Regions from separate parts of the Homo sapiens genome. Here region 2 is linked to region 1. The links come from fine-mapping of genetic effects on gene expression. A gene starts in region 1. The other region holds a variant in brackets. All regions are shown on one strand. Distances are between the middles of the regions.

Evidence for each region.
Region 2: its variant is fine-mapped to the expression of ABCC10 in whole blood (TOPMed, PIP 0.99).

The regions. Positions count from the first base shown.
Region 1 is chr6:43,424,292-43,432,621 of GRCh38, forward strand. It overlaps ABCC10 (ATP binding cassette subfamily C member 10), which reads left to right and starts at 3,250. Exons shown (of 22, transcript NM_001198934.2): 1 at 3,250-3,466; 2 at 3,677-3,848; 3 at 7,851-8,330. The coding sequence starts at 3,688. It overlaps LOC105375065 (a long non-coding RNA gene), which reads left to right. Exons shown (of 6, transcript XR_007059585.1): 6 at 402-1,723. RefSeq lists enhancers at 1,204-1,725, 3,827-3,896.
Region 2 is chr6:43,686,375-43,694,704 of GRCh38, forward strand. It overlaps MRPS18A (mitochondrial ribosomal protein S18A), which reads right to left and starts at 1,417. Exons shown (of 6, transcript NM_018135.4): 1 at 1,294-1,417. The coding sequence starts at 1,405. LOC124901320 (a long non-coding RNA gene) reads left to right here and starts at 2,588. Exons shown (of 2, transcript XR_007059586.1): 1 at 2,588-2,965; 2 at 3,297-3,519. RefSeq lists enhancers at 1,171-1,230, 1,176-1,787. The variant C/T (reference allele first, on the strand shown) is at 3,761.

The DNA.
Region 1 (8,330 bases):
CCAAAGTGCTAGCATTAGAAGTGTGAGCCACTGTGCTTGGCCCAAGTATTATTTAGGAAATACATTCCATAAGGCTATAGCTGTCATAGACAGTGATTCCTCTGATGGATCTGGACAAAGTAAATTTAAAACCCTCTGGAAAACATTCACCACACTAGATGCCATTAGGAATATCTGTGAGCCAGGCATGTTGGCTCATGTCTGCAATTCCAGCACTTTGGGAGGCTGAGGCAGGAGGATGGCTTGAGGCCAGGAGTTTGAGACCAGCTTAAGCAACATAGTGAGACCCTGCCTCCATTAAAAAAAAAAGCGCTCTCTCTCCCCCCTCCCCCTCCCTCTCCCTCTCCCCACGGTCTCCCTCTCCCTCTCCCCACGGTCTCCCTCTCCCTCTCTTTCCACAGTCTCCCTCTGATGCCGAGCAGAAGCTGGACTGTACTGCCGCTATCTCGGCTCACTGCAACCTCCCTGCCTGATTCTCCTGCCTCAGCCTGCCGAGTGCCTGGGATTGCAGGCGCGCGCCGCCACGCCTGACTGGTTTTCATATTTTTTTTGGTGGAGACGGGGTTTCGCTGTGTTGGCCGGGCTGGTCTCCAGCTCCTAACCGTGAGTTATCTGCCAGCCTCGGCCTCCCGAGGTACCGGGAATGCAGACGGAGTCTCATTCACTCAGTGCTCAATGTTGCCCAGGCTGGAGTGCAGTGGCGTGATCTCGGCTGGCTACAACCTCCACCTCCCAGCCGCCTGCCTTGGCCTCCCAAAGTGCCGAGATTGCAGCCTCTGCCTGGCCGCCATCCCGTCTAGGAAGTGAGGAGCGTCTCTGCCCGGCCGCCCATCGTCTGAGATGTGGGGAGCGCCTCTGCCCCGCCGCCCCGTCTGGGAGATGAGGAGCGTCTCTGCCCGGCCGCCCCGTCTGAGAAGTGAGGAGCCCCTCCGCCCAGCAGCCGCCCCGTCTGAGAAGTGAGGAGCCCCTCCGCCCGGCAGCTGCCCTGTCTGGGAAGTGAGGAGCGTCTCCGCCTGGCAGCTGCCCCGTCCGGGAGGTGGGGGGCAGCCCCCGCCCGGCTAGCTGCCCCGTCCAGGAGGTGGGGGGGGGCGCCTCCGCCCGGCCAGCTGCCCTGTCCTGGAGGTGGGGGGCGCCTCTGTCCGGCCGCCCCTTCTGGGAAGTGATGAGCCCCTCTGCCCGGCCGCCACCCCATCTGGGAGGTGTACCCAACAGCTCATTGAGAACGGGCCATGATGACGATGGTGGTTTTGTCGAATAGAAAAGGGGGAAATGTGGGGAAAAGATAGAGAAATCAGATTGTTGCTGTGTCTGTGTAGAAAGAAGTAGACATAGGAGACTCCATTTTGTTCTGTACTAAGAAAAATTCTTCTGCCTTGGAATGCTGTTAATATATGACCTTACCCCCAACCCCCTGCTCTCTGAAACATGTGCTGTGTCCGCTGAGGGTTAAATGGATTAAGGGCGGTGCAAGTGCTTTGTTAAACAGATGCTTGATGGCAGCATGCTCGTTAAGAGTCATCACCACTCCCTAATCTCAAGTACCCAGGGACACAAACACTGCGGAAGGCCGCAGGGTCCTCTGCCTAGGAAAACCAGAGACCTTTGTTCACTTGTTTATCTGCTGACCTTCCCTCCACTATTGTCTTATGACCCTGCCAAATCCCCTTCTGCGAGAAACACCCAAGAATGATCAATAAAAATAAATAAATAAATAAATAAAAAACTGTGATTCATGGGATTCATGGGAGGAGGACAACGTATATCAACATTAACAGAAGTTTGGAAGAAGCTGATTCCAACCTTCACGGATGGACCTTCAAGACATCAGTGGAGGAAGTAACTGCAGATGTGATGGAAACAGCAAGTGAATTAGAATTAGAAGTGGAGCCTGGCCAGGTGCAGTGGCTCACACCTATAATCCCAGCACTTTGGGAGGCCAAGGCAAGCGCATCACCTGAGGCCAGGAGTTCAAGACCAGCCTGGGCCAGGTAGCAAGACTCTGTTAATTAATTACTAAAGATTGTGAAATGCAAACCTACATCTCTTAGTTTTTAAAAATAGGAAAATTAATTCTTGACGTTGAGGGATATGGGGCTTCTTACTGAGATTAAGTGGGATAACCATAATTGTCATTTGTTTAGCTTTTCTTCTTCAAGCACTGTACACACCTATGTAAAGGCGGATACCAACACCATGCCTGACAAACATAATAAAATAAAGATGCAGAAGTAACCTGCCCAACATCCCTCTGCTAAAAGCATTCAAACCCAGGTCCGTATAATTATAAAGGTTATGTTCTTCCCACTGCTTCCTTAAAAGATTTATTGGAGGACTACCCTAGGCAAAGCACTTGCCCTAAGCACTCTAAATTAATTATTCAACTCTCTCAACAGTACTTTAGTATTGGTATTGTCCCTGTTGTACAAATAAAGAAGTTGAGGCTCGGCCGGGGTGGTGGCTCACGCCTGTAATCCCGGCTCTTCGGAAGGCCAAGGCGGACGGATCACGAGGTCAGGAGATCGAGACCATCCTTGCCAACATGGTGAAACCCCGTCTCTACTAAAAATACGAACAAAAAAATTGGCTGGGCGTGGTTGCGCGCGCCTGTAGTCCCAGCTACTCGGGAGGCTGAGGCAGGAGAATCGCTTTAACCCGGGAGGCGGAGGTTGCAGTGAACCGAGATTGTGCCACTGCACTCCAGCCTGGTGACAGAGCGAGACTCCGTCCCCCCCCCAAAAAAAAGTTGAGGCTCAAAAAAGTTAGGTAACTTGTCCAAGGTCATGCAGCCCTAGAATAATAAGGGAAAACAGTGTGTCCCAAAATGGCATTATTTGTCCGTGGGGCAGGTATGTTTGAATTTCCATCCATCCATCTATCTATCTGAGACTGGGGTCTCGCTATGCTGCTTGGACTGTTCTCGAACTCCTGGGCTCAGGCCATCCTCCTGGGATCTACCGGCGCGCAGAGACTACGGGCGCGCAGGGACTACCGAGGCGCGCAACCGTGCCCGGCTCCCCACCTCTTCAAGAAATGGAGATTGCAATGCTTGTGCCAACTAGTAAGCTTACACAGTTGTGAGCGAATACTCCACGTGAGAGGTTATAAATGACGTTGCACTAAGGGAGGGATGGATCCTTAACGCAAGTCAGGCCACAAAAGCGTACCAAAACGCAACTGTGCGTCTGCACCAGCGCGCCTGCGTGCAAAGGCCAGCCGAAGCAGAGAGCAGTGCACATGCGTGCAGCTACCAGCATATGGGCGTGGCGAATAGCGCCGGCTAGGTCTTCCAACCTCTAGGTGGGGTGCCAGCCGGGGCGGGCCCAGCACCCCGGCCGGGCAGTACTTTTTTTTTTTTTGCATACACCAGTTCTCAGGATATCGGAATCCGGTGCACAGCAGCTTCTTCAGGTTTGAGGTTCCGGATGCCTGGGGGCGGAGAAACGGGAGGGGAAAAACAGATGGCAAGGTGGGTGACCAGCGTCCAGAAATCCACTGGGGAAACCTCCTCCCGTTTTTACCCTTGGTACCGCGAGAATGGGCGGGGTCTGGCTTCGGGGCGGAAGCGACGGGCGGTCCCGGTTCCAGGGCGGGGCTGGAGACAGGGAGACCCGGCTGGGAAGTGCAGGCAAAGCCGGCTGTTACCCTGCACAGCCGTCACCCTCAACTTTCCCTTCAGGTGAGGCGTCCATGGAACGACTTCTGGCCCAGCTGTGCGGCAGCAGCGCAGCGTGGCCGCTCCCGCTGTGGGAGGGGGACACCACAGGCCACTGCTTCACCCAGCTGGTGCTCAGCGCCCTGCCCCACGCGCTCCTCGCCGTGCTCAGTGCCTGTTACTTGGGCACCCCGAGGTGGGTAGAGACGGGCGCAAGGCATCTGTCCATGTGTGCCTGCAGATCTCACCCGCGGCCTACATCTTCCGGCAGTGTCACCAGAATAGCGAGGTCTCTGGAGTAGGGCAGAAGTAGAATAAAATCTAAGCATTGCTACTTAGCAGCAATGTGGCTGTTCTTGGGCAAGTACCTGCCTTCTCTGAGTCTCATTGTTGGGAGGTTTAAATGAGATAATGAATTTAAGCATATAGTGCAGCGCCTGGCATGTTTTTAAAGGTCCGATGAGTATCAGAAATCATCAGAATTGTCCATTTTCAGCTACCCGGACTCAGCTGTCATGAATTGGAGGCAGAATTGGGGGAACAACGTTTTTAGCCAAAAGCGATGATGTGTTTAAGTTGTAGGCTCAGTTTCTCACCACTGCAACCCATGAAACCTTAGTGTTTCCAGATTAAGAAAAGCATACCTAGGCTCAGCTGAAGAGGAAGCAGTAGATAGACAAGAAGAGCAAAATCAAACATTAAGCCTTCCCCAATTAAGGGCTATAAGGTGTGGATGCTAAACTCAACTTGATTTTGTATTTAGTTCTTGTATGGCTAGAGATGACTAAAGTTAGTCTCATTCTGGCTGCCGAGAAGATAGGAGGACGGTGTGGTCTCTGCCTTTGGGAGTTCCTAGTCTGATGGGGGGAAGTGTCTCTATCCAAGAGGTCTTTCTTGCTTTCTCATTAGACTGAGTTCCCAAAAGACTGTGCCAATTTTTAATAGCTGCTCTTCTGAGAAGGCTGTCTATGCTAGGTGATTAAACCCTTCTAGACTTTTGTCTCTGTGTAAGAAACAAATCAGGATTCCTCCCAGACCAAGCGGATACACAGCTTCTCCTATCCAAGGAAGGGATTCATCCGCCCCCTGGGAAAGCAAGAAAGACCATCATGTGATCAATAGAAATTGTGCTTCACTTCACTTATCAGCCTTGTGTGTGTTGCTGAGAAGGGTTAGAGAGATCGAGAATCTAAGACAGGAAAGGGCCTCAGAAGGCTTTAACTTGAGACTCACTGCTCACCATACTGGTGAGGAAAGTGAGATTCAGAGAGGAAAAGAGACTTGAAGGGGTGATGAGGCTGGTTGATGGCCAACTTGGGGCCAGTTTATGCCTCCAAGGGCCCAGTGTTCTTTCTTGGGTCCCCACATCTTAGGAAATATATATATTTTTTTCTTTTCCTTCTTTCTTTTCTTTCTTTCTTTTCTTTCTTGTGTGTGTGTGTGTGTGTGTGTGTGTGTGTGTGTGTGGCGGGGGGGAGGGGGGATTGTTATTGTTGTTTTGTTTTTTGAGGCAGCGTCTCCCTCTGTTGCCCAGGCTGAAGTACAGTGGTGCAATCACAGTTCACTGCAGCCTCAACCTCCTGGGCTCCAGCAACCTCTCACCTCAGCCTTTTGATTTGCTGGGGCCACAAGTGCATGCCACCACACCTGGCTAATTTTTTTAAAAATTATTTTTAATAGGCCGGGTGCAGTGGCTCAAGCCTGTAATGCCAGCACTGTAGGAGGCCAGGAGTTCGAGACCAGCCTGCCAACGTGGCAGAATGCCATCTCTACTAAAAATACAAAAAATTGGCCGGGCCCAGTGGCTCATGCCTGTAATCCCAGCACTTTGGGAGGCTGAGACAGGCAGATCACTGGAGGTCAGGAGTTTGAAACCAGCCTGGTCAACATGGTGAAACCCCATCTTGAATCGCTTGAACCCAGGAGGCAGAGGTTGTGGTGCGCCAAGATTGCACCACTGCACTCCAGCCTGGACGACAAAGCGAGACTCTGTCTCAAAAAGAAAAAATTATTTTTAGTAGAGACAAGGCCTTGCTTTGTTGTCCAGGCTGGTCTTGAACTCTTGGGCTCAAGCAATCCTTCTGCCTCAGCCTCCTAAAGTTCTGGGTTTACAAATGTGAGCCACCATGCCCAGCCAGAAATAGAAAAAAATTTTTTTTTTCTTTGAGACAGGGTCTTACTCTGTCACCCAGGCTGGAGAGCAGTGGCACGATCTCGGCCCACTGCAACCTCCACCTCTTGGGTTCAAGCGATTCTCCTGCCTTAGCCTCCAGAGTAGCTGAGACTACAGGCATGTGCCACCATGCCTGGCCAGTTTTCGTATTTTTACTAGAGATGGAGTTTCACTGTGTTACACAGGCTGGTCTTGAACTCCTGGCCTCAAGTGATCCACCTGCCTCTGCCTCCCAAAGTGCTGGGATTACAGGCTTGAGCCACCATGCCCAGCCCAGAAATAGAATTCTTAAAGGCTGATTTTTTATTCCCATCTAAATCCCTACAAATAACTGTCATCAGGTGGACTTTTAAGAAAACCCCCAGCTACTCGGGAGGCTGAGGCAGGGGAATCGCTTGAACCTGGGAGGCGGAGGTTGCAGCGAGCTGAGATCACGCCATTGCGCTCCAGCCTGGCGACAGAGCAAGACTCTGCATTTTAGCTTACAAGTAAACTTTTTTAGTAACCTAGCCGTGCCACAAAGGGTGTAACAGACTCAGTCCTCTTTTTGTATGAACTTTCAAGACATCCTGATACTCACTGCTGCAGATACGTTTTCCTGTATTTGATTCTTTTTTTTTTTTTTGGACAGAGTCTCTCTTTGTCACCCAGGCTGGAGTACAGTGGCACGATCTCAGCTCACTGCAACCTCCGCCTCCCAGGTTCAAGCGATTCTCGTGCCTCAGTGTCCCAAAGTAGCTGGGATTACAGGTGTGTGCCACCATTCCCTGCTAATTTTTGTATTTTTATTAGAGACCGGGTTTTACCATGTTGGCCAGGCTGGTCTCAAACTGCTGATCTCAAGTGATCTGCCTGCTTCAGCCTCCCAAAGTGCTGGGATTACGGGCATAAGCCACTGTGACCAGCCCCTGTATTTGATTCTTAATGCAGACAGATCACCTTTTGTTTATTAAAAACATTTTTTTATGCCAAGAAGATATAAACACAAGCAAAAAGAGATATTTTTCTTTAGCTAAAGGAGTCGCAAAAGCAATCCACACCACCTTCTATAATCAGTGGAAAGAGAGTAGAATATTCCAAGCCTTTATAAAGTTTAGGCTACCATATTAGAATATAAAAGCTGTATGTAAGTCCGATTTTTATTCATTTAATAGTGCTTCAGGTGAATTTAAGGGTACTGTTAGGTGGATCCTTTTGTAAAAATGAATATGTACCCTTTATCAGTTATCTGCATGAAAACTTTGGATTTTCTTTTTTTTCCTGAGACGGAGTCTTCCCCTGTCACCCAGGCTGGAGTGCATTGGCGTGATCTCAGCTCACTGCAACCTCCATCTCCCAGATTCAAGCGATTCTCCTGCCTCAGCCTCCTGAGTAGCTGGGATTGCAGGTGCCTGCCACCATGCCTGGCTAATTTTTGCATTTTTGGTAAAGATGGGGGTTTCACCATGTTGGCCAGGCTGGTCTCGAACTCCTAACCTCAGGCGATCCTCCCGTCTCAGCCTCCCAAAGTGCTAGGATTACAGGCGTGAGCCACGGCGCCCAGCCTGGATTTTTTTTAAAATTTTAGATTCATGAGGCATATGTGCTTGTTTGTTATTATACATGGATATATTATGTGATGCTGAAGTTTGGGCTTCTAATGATCCCATCACCAAAGTAGCAAACGTAGTACCCAGGATTTTTTTTTTCCTAGTTAGTCTTCATGTTAAGTACAATCTTACCTCAAAATTGTTAATGTCTGTGGTTTAAAAAAAAACATGAATCAGAAATGGTGTGGGTAGTTTAGAAAATGAGTTAGGTTCAGGTGGCCGGTTAGCTCAGTTGGTCAGAAAATGAGTTAGGTTCATCTGGGAAGACTTCCTGGGAGAAAAGACCCTGGGTTCTGAGGTAAAGTGGAGTAGGGATAAGATGTGCAAGGCAGGAAGGGAGTTGATTCCTTAGGTAAGTGAATTATTGGAGGTGAGGGGTATGTCTGGCTCCTGAGTCAGCCACGATGTGCCTCCTTGTCTTCCCCCTTGTCCCCAGGAGTCCAGATTACATCCTACCCTGCAGTCCTGGATGGCGCCTCCGACTTGCAGCTTCCTTCCTGCTTTCCGTCTTCCCGCTGCTAGACCTTCTTCCAGTTGCTTTGCCACCAGGGGCAGGCCCAGGACCCATAGGGCTAGAGGTGTTGGCAGGGTGCGTGGCAGCTGTGGCCTGGATCAGCCACAGCCTGGCCCTGTGGGTGTTGGCACATTCCCCTCATGGCCACTCCCGGGGTCCCTTGGCCTTGGCCCTGGTAGCCTTGCTGCCAGCTCCAGCCCTAGTGCTGACCGTGTTGTGGCATTGCCAGCGAGGCACACTTCTGCCCCCACTTCTCCCAGGGCCCATGGCCCGCCTATGCTTGCTCATCCTGCAGCTGGCTGCACTCTTGGCCTATGCACTGGGATGGGCAGCTCCTGGGGGACCACGAGAACCCTGGGCTCAGGAGCCCCTCCTGCCCGAGGATCAAGAACCTGAGGTGGC
Region 2 (8,330 bases), 260 kb after region 1:
GTGTCTTTATTAATGGGTCTACTAATGGATAAGTTAATCAGGCAATATCCAGACTTTTTTTTCTAGCAAATGCTCCACTTCCCTTACGGGCTAAATTCTTCAAACATACTTACTATTTCCATCTCTTCATCAACTATCTCTTTCATTTCTCCAAACTGGATTCCTTGTTTGCCACTCTATTGAAATTGCTGTTTGAAAGCTACAAAGAGACCTCTTCTGAGACAAATCCAATGGCCCCTTCATTAGGCCCTTTTTAGACTTTTCTGCTCCCTCTGACAACAATGATCACTCTTTTCCACTGGATACTTCTCAGCTTTCGTTAAAGGATATGCTGCCCAATACTATGCCAGATCCTCAAAAAACCCCACATCTCTTCTTTTGCACATCACTCATCCTTTCCTGCTTCCAGGAGTACACAAAGGAAGGCTATGTCCTAAAAGACCGTTTCACTCTCCGCCAGATTCCATCCTTTTGTGAGCCTGCTCAAGACACATCCTCTTTATGAAAACTTCCAACTGGGTTTGCCGTTTCCAGTAACTGAGTCTCCCTGTACTTCGTCACGTAAAAGGCTAACTTGCATTTATTGGAGTGTGTATATACATAATCTCATTAGAACCTAAGCTTTTCAGAAAAAGGGCTGTATTTTCTGTCTCCAGAATTCCTTCACAGCTTGAAGCATAGCACTTGGCATTCAGTAAACTCTCAGTTGATGCTCGAATCAGGCCGCTTTCCCAGATTAAGATTAATGAAAAGCTGAACTACCATCCTGCATTTGCCTATGTCTCAGCTATTCAATGGCCTTTCCACTTTGGCCTCCCCCTCACAGGGAGACTAGCGGCCCGGGGCAGAGAACGCCGCCATCAGATCACAGCATTTTGAGAAGGGAAAGTGGAAAGGGAGGCTCTGGGAGGGTACCCAGATGGCCTTCCTTCGTGATCCAGAGACTCTTTAATAAAAGAGACTGCGATTCGGAGAACATGGAAGGAAGAATTAACATGCAAACCCTTTCCGAAAACTTTTCTGAGCCCTAGGACAGGTTTAGTGTCTGCTCCTGCTAAGTAAGCAGGCTTTTCTCTCCGTCCTCCTCCGCCTTGTGAAGATACTCACAAGGGGCAGGAGATCAAGATAAGGCACCAGGGTGTGGAAGGGGCTTTTAAGCACGCCTGGGGAGCCGGTACCTCCAAAGTTTCAGAATCGGACGAAGGAAAGGTAGGAAGGAGCGCACCGGGGCTGGCGGAAGCAGTCTCTGCCGCTCTTCTTAATTTCAGGAGGTTGCTGGGACGCATGACTCACCTTCCCTGAACCCGCGAGCTGGAAGCCGAGACCAGCTGGTCGCTGCCGGGCCCGCTAGTAGCCCACGGAGAAGCCGCCCACAGCCGGACACCAGAGCCTTGAGGGCCGCCATCTTCAAAAACCTACCCTGACCTCTCGTCCATTTCCGCTTCCGGAACGTAGCGCCCGCCGCCGCAGTGGTGGGGCAGGAACGGCGGGGCGGGGTTGTAGTTCGCTTGCTCCTGTCACATCATTTCTCTCACCTGTCCGCTTTGGGATACGAAGAGAGGCTTCTGCGTCAAGCCTATATTTCGTGTTAAGGATCTAGGGGAGGTCTTCTAGCTCCTGTCTGCCAATGCCTACAAGTCTTCAAGGTTGCATTCGTTTCCTGGAAGGCTTCCTTAGGAAAATCGCACGCAACACCCCACCTATGTCTTTAAAGCTTTCTCTTCACTGCACGTGAGCTGTGGACTTTTAGCTTCTGTGACTGGGGCTAGACCTCTACGGGAGAGGCTGAAATGGTTAGGAACTCTGGCTCTGGAGTATCGGATATCAGGCAGACCTGGGATAGAATTGATACCCCCTTCTTCCCTGACCACTGCCACACTGATCTTTGATTTGCATATACTTAGACCTCTCTCTAGCCCCAGGGCCTTGATACAAGCTATTTCCTTTGTCTGCTCTTTAGCTGTCTAGTTAGCTTCTGCTTATTTCTTAGAGCTCACCTCAAACCTTATTTCCACAGTTTTGCTTGACTGCCCATTCTCAGCACCAGATGCCTCTCCATCTTAGTGCTTGGGACAATTTCAGTTTTATGTTTGTTTTGTATGTGTCTTCTCACCAGACTGTAAGCTCCATGAAGTCAGGAACATTGTTTTCTGTTGACTCGCACATCTCCAGCACTTAGAATAGTTCCTGACACATAATAAGAGTACAATATATACTTGTTGAATGAATGAGTAGAATCTATTTTATAGGGCCTAGGGGAGGACTAGACCCTGAAGATTAGATGTGATAAAACATAAGTGATCGGCCGGGTGTGGTGGCTCATGCCTGTAATCCCAGCACTTTGGGAGGCTGAGGCGGGTGGATTACCTGAGGTCAGGAGTTCAAGACCAGCCTGACCAACATGGTGAAACCCTATCTACTAAAAATACAAAAATTAGGTGGGTGTGGTGGCGGGCACCTGTAATCCCAGACACTTGGGAGGCTGAGGCAGGAGAATCGCTTGAACCCAGGAGGCGGAGGTTGCAGTGAGCCAAGATCACACCATTGCACTCCAGCCTGGGCGACAAGAGTGAAACTCCGTCTCAAAAACAAAACAAAACAAAACAAAACAAAACAAAAGGGCTCAATAAACATAAGCTAGTTAATAGAGCAGTTATGGAGATGACTCTTTTCACAAGTTGGACTCACTTGTGTTGTAAGGAAGCTTATGGTACCAAAGAGAAAATACAACTGCCAGTTTTTCCTCTTTCAGATTTGTGAGACGTATAGGATGTTCCTCTGGAGCTCCACAGGAAAGGAAAATCATTCACAACTCAGTTCTTCCTATCCTTCTCTGATTCAAGATGGGAAAATCAGGCTTATTAAATGACATAGCATGTTTTCTGATGAGTAGGAGAGGAGCCCATCATCCAGTTGGGACCGTCACCCTAATAGGAGGATGCAGAGCAGCTGCTGTATGGAAAATGTGAGTGGCATCACCATAGACAGGGAGAACAGGAGAAATGCAGCATTGGGTTACGTTAAAACATCTCATTTAGCAAAGGTAAACCCGGTGAAGGGGAAACTTAAAAGAAAAGTCAATCAAGGTGGTAGAGACTGACACATGGATTAGGAGTGAAGCAGAGGGTCTTAGTGAGGTGTAGGTCTAGGTGTCCCAGCCAGGATCAAGAAAGCTTTGACTCTCCCTATAGCTTCCAAGTTTGTTCTGCATAGATGACCTTGAGCTTATAGATGTATAGATGACCTTTTGTGTTTGTACTACATCCTCTGTTTCTTCACCCATTTCCAACTTCCAGGAATCCAGTAGAGACAAGGGCAGCAACAGAGCCCCACCCAGGGCTTGCTTTGGACACAGTGAGCTAAAGCATTCGAGTGCCAACCCTCTTCTCATTATCTTATCTTAACTTATCATAAACAAATTTTATTTTAAAAAACAACTATGACAGGTAACATGTGATCATTGTAGAAAAATGAAACAATAAATAAAGTAAAAAGAAAATAAATGTCATCTAAAATCCAGAGATAAGCATTGTTTACATTTAGCAAGATGAAATAATACTGTGGATATTCTTTGCCTTATAATATCTTATTTTTCTGAATCCATTTATGATTAGTCCCTACAATTCTGTGAGACCAGGTTTGGATCAGGAGACTAGCTTTAAAAAACAACACATCTTTTAATTAAAGTATTACCTGTGTAAGAAAAATACACAGGCTGGGTACAATGGCTCACGCCTGTAATCCCAGCACTTTGGGAGGC[C/T]GAGGCAGGTGGATCACTTAAGGTCAGGAGTTCGAGACCAGCCTGGCCAACATGGTGAAACCTCATCTCTGCTAAAAATACAAAAATTAGCTGGGCGTGGTAGGCTCCTGTAATCTCAGTTCCTCAGGAGGCTGAGGCAGGAGAATCACCTGAACCCTGCAGGTGGAGGTTGCGGTGAGCCGAGATCACGCCATTGCACTCCAGCCTGGGCAACAGAGTGAGACTGTCTCAAAAAAAAAAACAAAAAACCCAAACAAACAAACAAACAAAAAACAACAAAACACACAAATCATCAGTGTACTGCTTGATGAATTTTCGCAAAGGGACACACTACCCATACTGGAGTGGAGTGGCATGTTCAAGCAGAACTTGACTGGCACTCTAGAACACCCCATTGTGTCCCCTTCCAGACACTACCCCGCAAGGATAATCATTATCCTGACTTTTAGCACAATACATTACTTTTCCCTGCATTTGACCTTTATATAATATTCCACTGTGAATATACTATATTTTAAAAAATCACTTTTTTTTCTGTTGATAGAATTTAGATACTTGCCACTTGGGACTACTACAAAGAGTGCTGTAACGTTCTTCTACGTGACTCTTGGTGAACACAAGAACAAACTTCTTTGGGGCCTATCTCGCGGTAGAACTGTTAGGTTGCAGGGTATGCCTATGCTCAGCTTTAGTAGAAGATATTGCCTTGACAGTTTTTACAAAAGCCTTTTTAAATTAAATTTTTTTTTTTTGAGACAGAGTCTTGCTCTGTCACCCAGGCTGGAGTGCAGTGGCGTGATCATGGCTCACGGTAGACTGGACTTCTTGGGCACGGGTGATTCTCCCACCTCAGCCTCCTGAGTAGCTGGGACTACAGGTACATGACACTATGCCCGGCTAATTTTCTGTATTTTTTGCAGAGGTGGGGTTTTCCCATGTTGCCCAGGCTGGTCTTAAACTCCTGGGCTCAAGCAATCTGCCTGTCTCAGCCTCCCAAACTGCTGAGATTACAGGCACGAGTCACCATGTCTGGCCCAAAGGCCAGGCTAGATACTGTCAAACAATTTTCCATAATGATTGTACCAGTTTACTCTGGTATCAACTGTGTGTGACAGTTCTAATTGCTCCACACCTTGTCAATATTTGATTTTTTTTTTTGGTATTTTTAATCTTGCCATTCTGGTTGGCGTGTAGTAGGATCTCACTGTGTATTTATCTTACATTTCTCTGATGCTTAATGAAGATGAGTAACTTTTCATATGTTCATAGACCATTTATTTATATTTATTTATTTATTTATTTATTTTTGAGACAGAGTCTCACTCTGTCCCACAGGCTGGAGTGCAATGGTGCGATCTTGGCTCACTGCAACCTCCGCCCCCCAGGTTCAAGTGATTCTTCTGCCTCAGCCTCCCGAGTAGCTGGGATTACAGGTGCACCCCACCATGTCCAGCTAATTTTTGTATTTTTAGTACAGACAGAGTCTCACCATGTTGGACAGGCTGGTATGGATCTCCTGACCTCCAATTATTCACCTGCCTCGGCCTTCCAAAGTGTTGAGATTACAGGCGTGAGCCACCACACCTGGCCAATAAATTTCAAGCGTGCAGTTTATATAGCAATATAGGTCATTTAGACATCTCTTTTGTAAAATGTGTGTTTAATATTTTGGCTGATGTTATATTGGGTTGCCTGTGTTTTGCTTTTCTTTTTTCTATTTATTTATTTATTTAAAGACAGGACTTCCCTGTCACGCAGGCTGTAGTGCAGTGGCACATTCGTGGCTTTCTGCAGGCTTGACCTCTCAGGCTCAAGTGATCCTCCAACCTCTCAGCCTCCTGAGGAGCTGGGACTATAGGCATACACTATGATACCCAACTAATTTTTTTTTTTTTTTTGAGATGGAGTCTAGCTCTGTCGCCCAGGCTGGAGTGGAGTGGCATGATCTCGGCTCACCGCAACCTCCGCTTCTTGGGTTCAAGCAATTCTCCTGCCTCAGTCTCCTGAGTAGCTGGGATTACAGGCTCCCACCACCATGCCCAGCTAATTTTTATATTTTTAGTAGAGACGGGGGTTTCACCATATTGGCCTGGCTGGTCTCGAACTCTTGACCTCTGGTGATCTGTCTACCTCGGCCTCCCAAAGTGCTAGGATTATAGGCATGAGCCACCACGCCCAGCCTGATACCCAGCTTGTTTTTAATTTTTTTGTGGAGACAGGGTCTCACTATGTTGCCCAGACTGGTCTCGAAGTCCTCCTCTCAAGCGATCCTCCTGCATCAGCCTCCCAAAGTGCTGGGATTACAGGCATGAGCTACAGCTCCTGGCCTGTCTTTTTCTTATTGATTTGTAGTTCTTTATATATGCTGGATACTTATCCTTTCTTGAATATATGTACTTCAAATGTCATCTCCCTCTCTGTGGGTTGCCTTTTCATTCTCCTGTAGTTTTTTTTTTTATGAGGAGTATTTAAAAAATTTTAATATAGTGCAATTTATCAGTTTTTTTCTTTTATGGTTGATGCTTCTTGTTTCCTTTTCAATTCTTTTTCTGGCTGGGCGTGGTGGCTCATGCCTGTAATCTCAACACTTTGAGAAGTTGAGGCAGGACGATTGCTTGAGCCCAGAAGTTTGAGACCAGCCTGGGCAACAGGTGAAACCCCATCTCTACTGAAAATACACAGAAAAATTAGCCAGGCACGGTGGTGCATGCCTGTAGTCTCAGCTACTCAAAAGGCTGAGGTGGGAGAATCACCTGAGCCCGGGAAGTCAAGGCTGCAGTGAGCCATGATTGTGCCGCTGCACTCCAGCAGCCTGGGCAATGGGAGTGAGACCTAATTAAAAAAAAAAAAAATTAGCTGGGTACGTGCATGCAGTCCAGGTTACTTGGAAGGCTAAAATGGGGAGGGTCACTTGAGCCCAGGTGTTTGAGGTTACGGTGAGCTATGATGACGCCACTGCACTTCAGCCTGGGTGATGGAGTAAGAAGGTGTCTCTACAAAAAGTAAAAAATAAATAATAATTTTTGTCCTCTTCAAGGTCATGAAGATGTTCTTCTGTCTTTTTTTCTAAAAACTTTATTGTTTACTTTTCACATTTAGATCTTTGAGTCATCTGGAATTGTTTTGTTATGGTCTGAAACTGGGATTAAGATTAATTTTTCCCGTATAATTTCAATATCTAACTGACCTAGCACCATTTAAAATTTTCACACTTTTCCTTTTTTTTTTTTTTGAGACGAAGTTTTGCTGTTGTTGCCCAGGTTGGAGTGCAATGGTGTGATTTCCACTCACTGCAACCTCCACCTCCTGGGTTCAAACGATTCTCCTGCCTCAGCCTCCCGAGCAGCTGGGATTACAGGTGCCTGCCACCATGCCCGACTAATTAAAAATTTCACACTTTCCCCACTGCATTTCATCTGGTCTGTTTTCTGGAATCTCTATTTAGTTCCAGTGGTCTCTTTTTCTGTCATTCGGCACCATACACACACACACACACACACACACACACACACACACACACACACACACATATATATATATATATATATATCTTCATTTGTTTATTTTTTCAGAGATGGAGTTTTGCTCTGTCACCCAGGCTAGAGTGCAGTGGCTTGAACATGGCTCACTGCAGCTTCAACCCCCTGGGCTCAAACAATCCTCCTGCCTCAGCCTCCTGAGTAGCTGGGACGACAGGCAAACTTTGGCACTATATTTAATGGCTATGTACTATTTCACTGTCTGGAAGTGCAATCTCCAATCTCCAATTGCTAAGCTTTGGCTTTTTTTTTTTTTTTTGAGAGGAAGTCTCACTCTTGTCCCCCAGGCTGGAGTGCAATGGTGCAATCTCGGCTCACTGCAACCTCTGCCTCCTGGGTTCAAGCGATTCTCCTGCCTCAGCCTCCCAAGTAGCTGGTATTACAGGTGCCTGCCACCATGCCCGGCTAATTTTTGTATTTGTAGTAGAGATGGGGTTTCGCCATGTTGGCCAGGCTGGTCTCGAACTCCTGACCTCAGGTGATCTGCCTGCCTTGGCCTCCCAAAATGCTGGGATTACAGGCATGAGCCACTGTGCCTGGCCGCTTTTAGCTTGCTTTCAATTCAAAATATTTTCTTTCATTTTTTTTTTTTTTTTGAGACAATAGTCTCACTCTGTTGCCCAGGCTGGAGTGCAGTGGTGCGATCTTGGCTTACTGCAACCTCTGCTTCCCAGGTTCAAGCAATTCTCCTGCCTCAGCCTCAGCCTCCTGAGTAGCTGGGATTACAGGTGCCCGCCACCAAGCTTGCCTAATTTTTTGTATTTTTAGTAGAGACAGGGTTTCACCATGTTGGCCAGGCTGCTCTTGAACTCCTGACCTCAGGTGATCCACCCGCCTCGGCCTCCCAAAGTGCTAGGATTACAGGCGTGAGCCACTGCGCCTGGCCCAAAATTTTTTCTAATATCTAGCTTCCTACTCCAAAAACAGTATGTTCTATTCAATCAGTGAGTCTTTTATTCCCTTCTCCCTAGTTGAGTATGCTGTGGATTCTTTTTGTAAGTACAACAGTGCTGTGGAATGAAAGGGGGTCA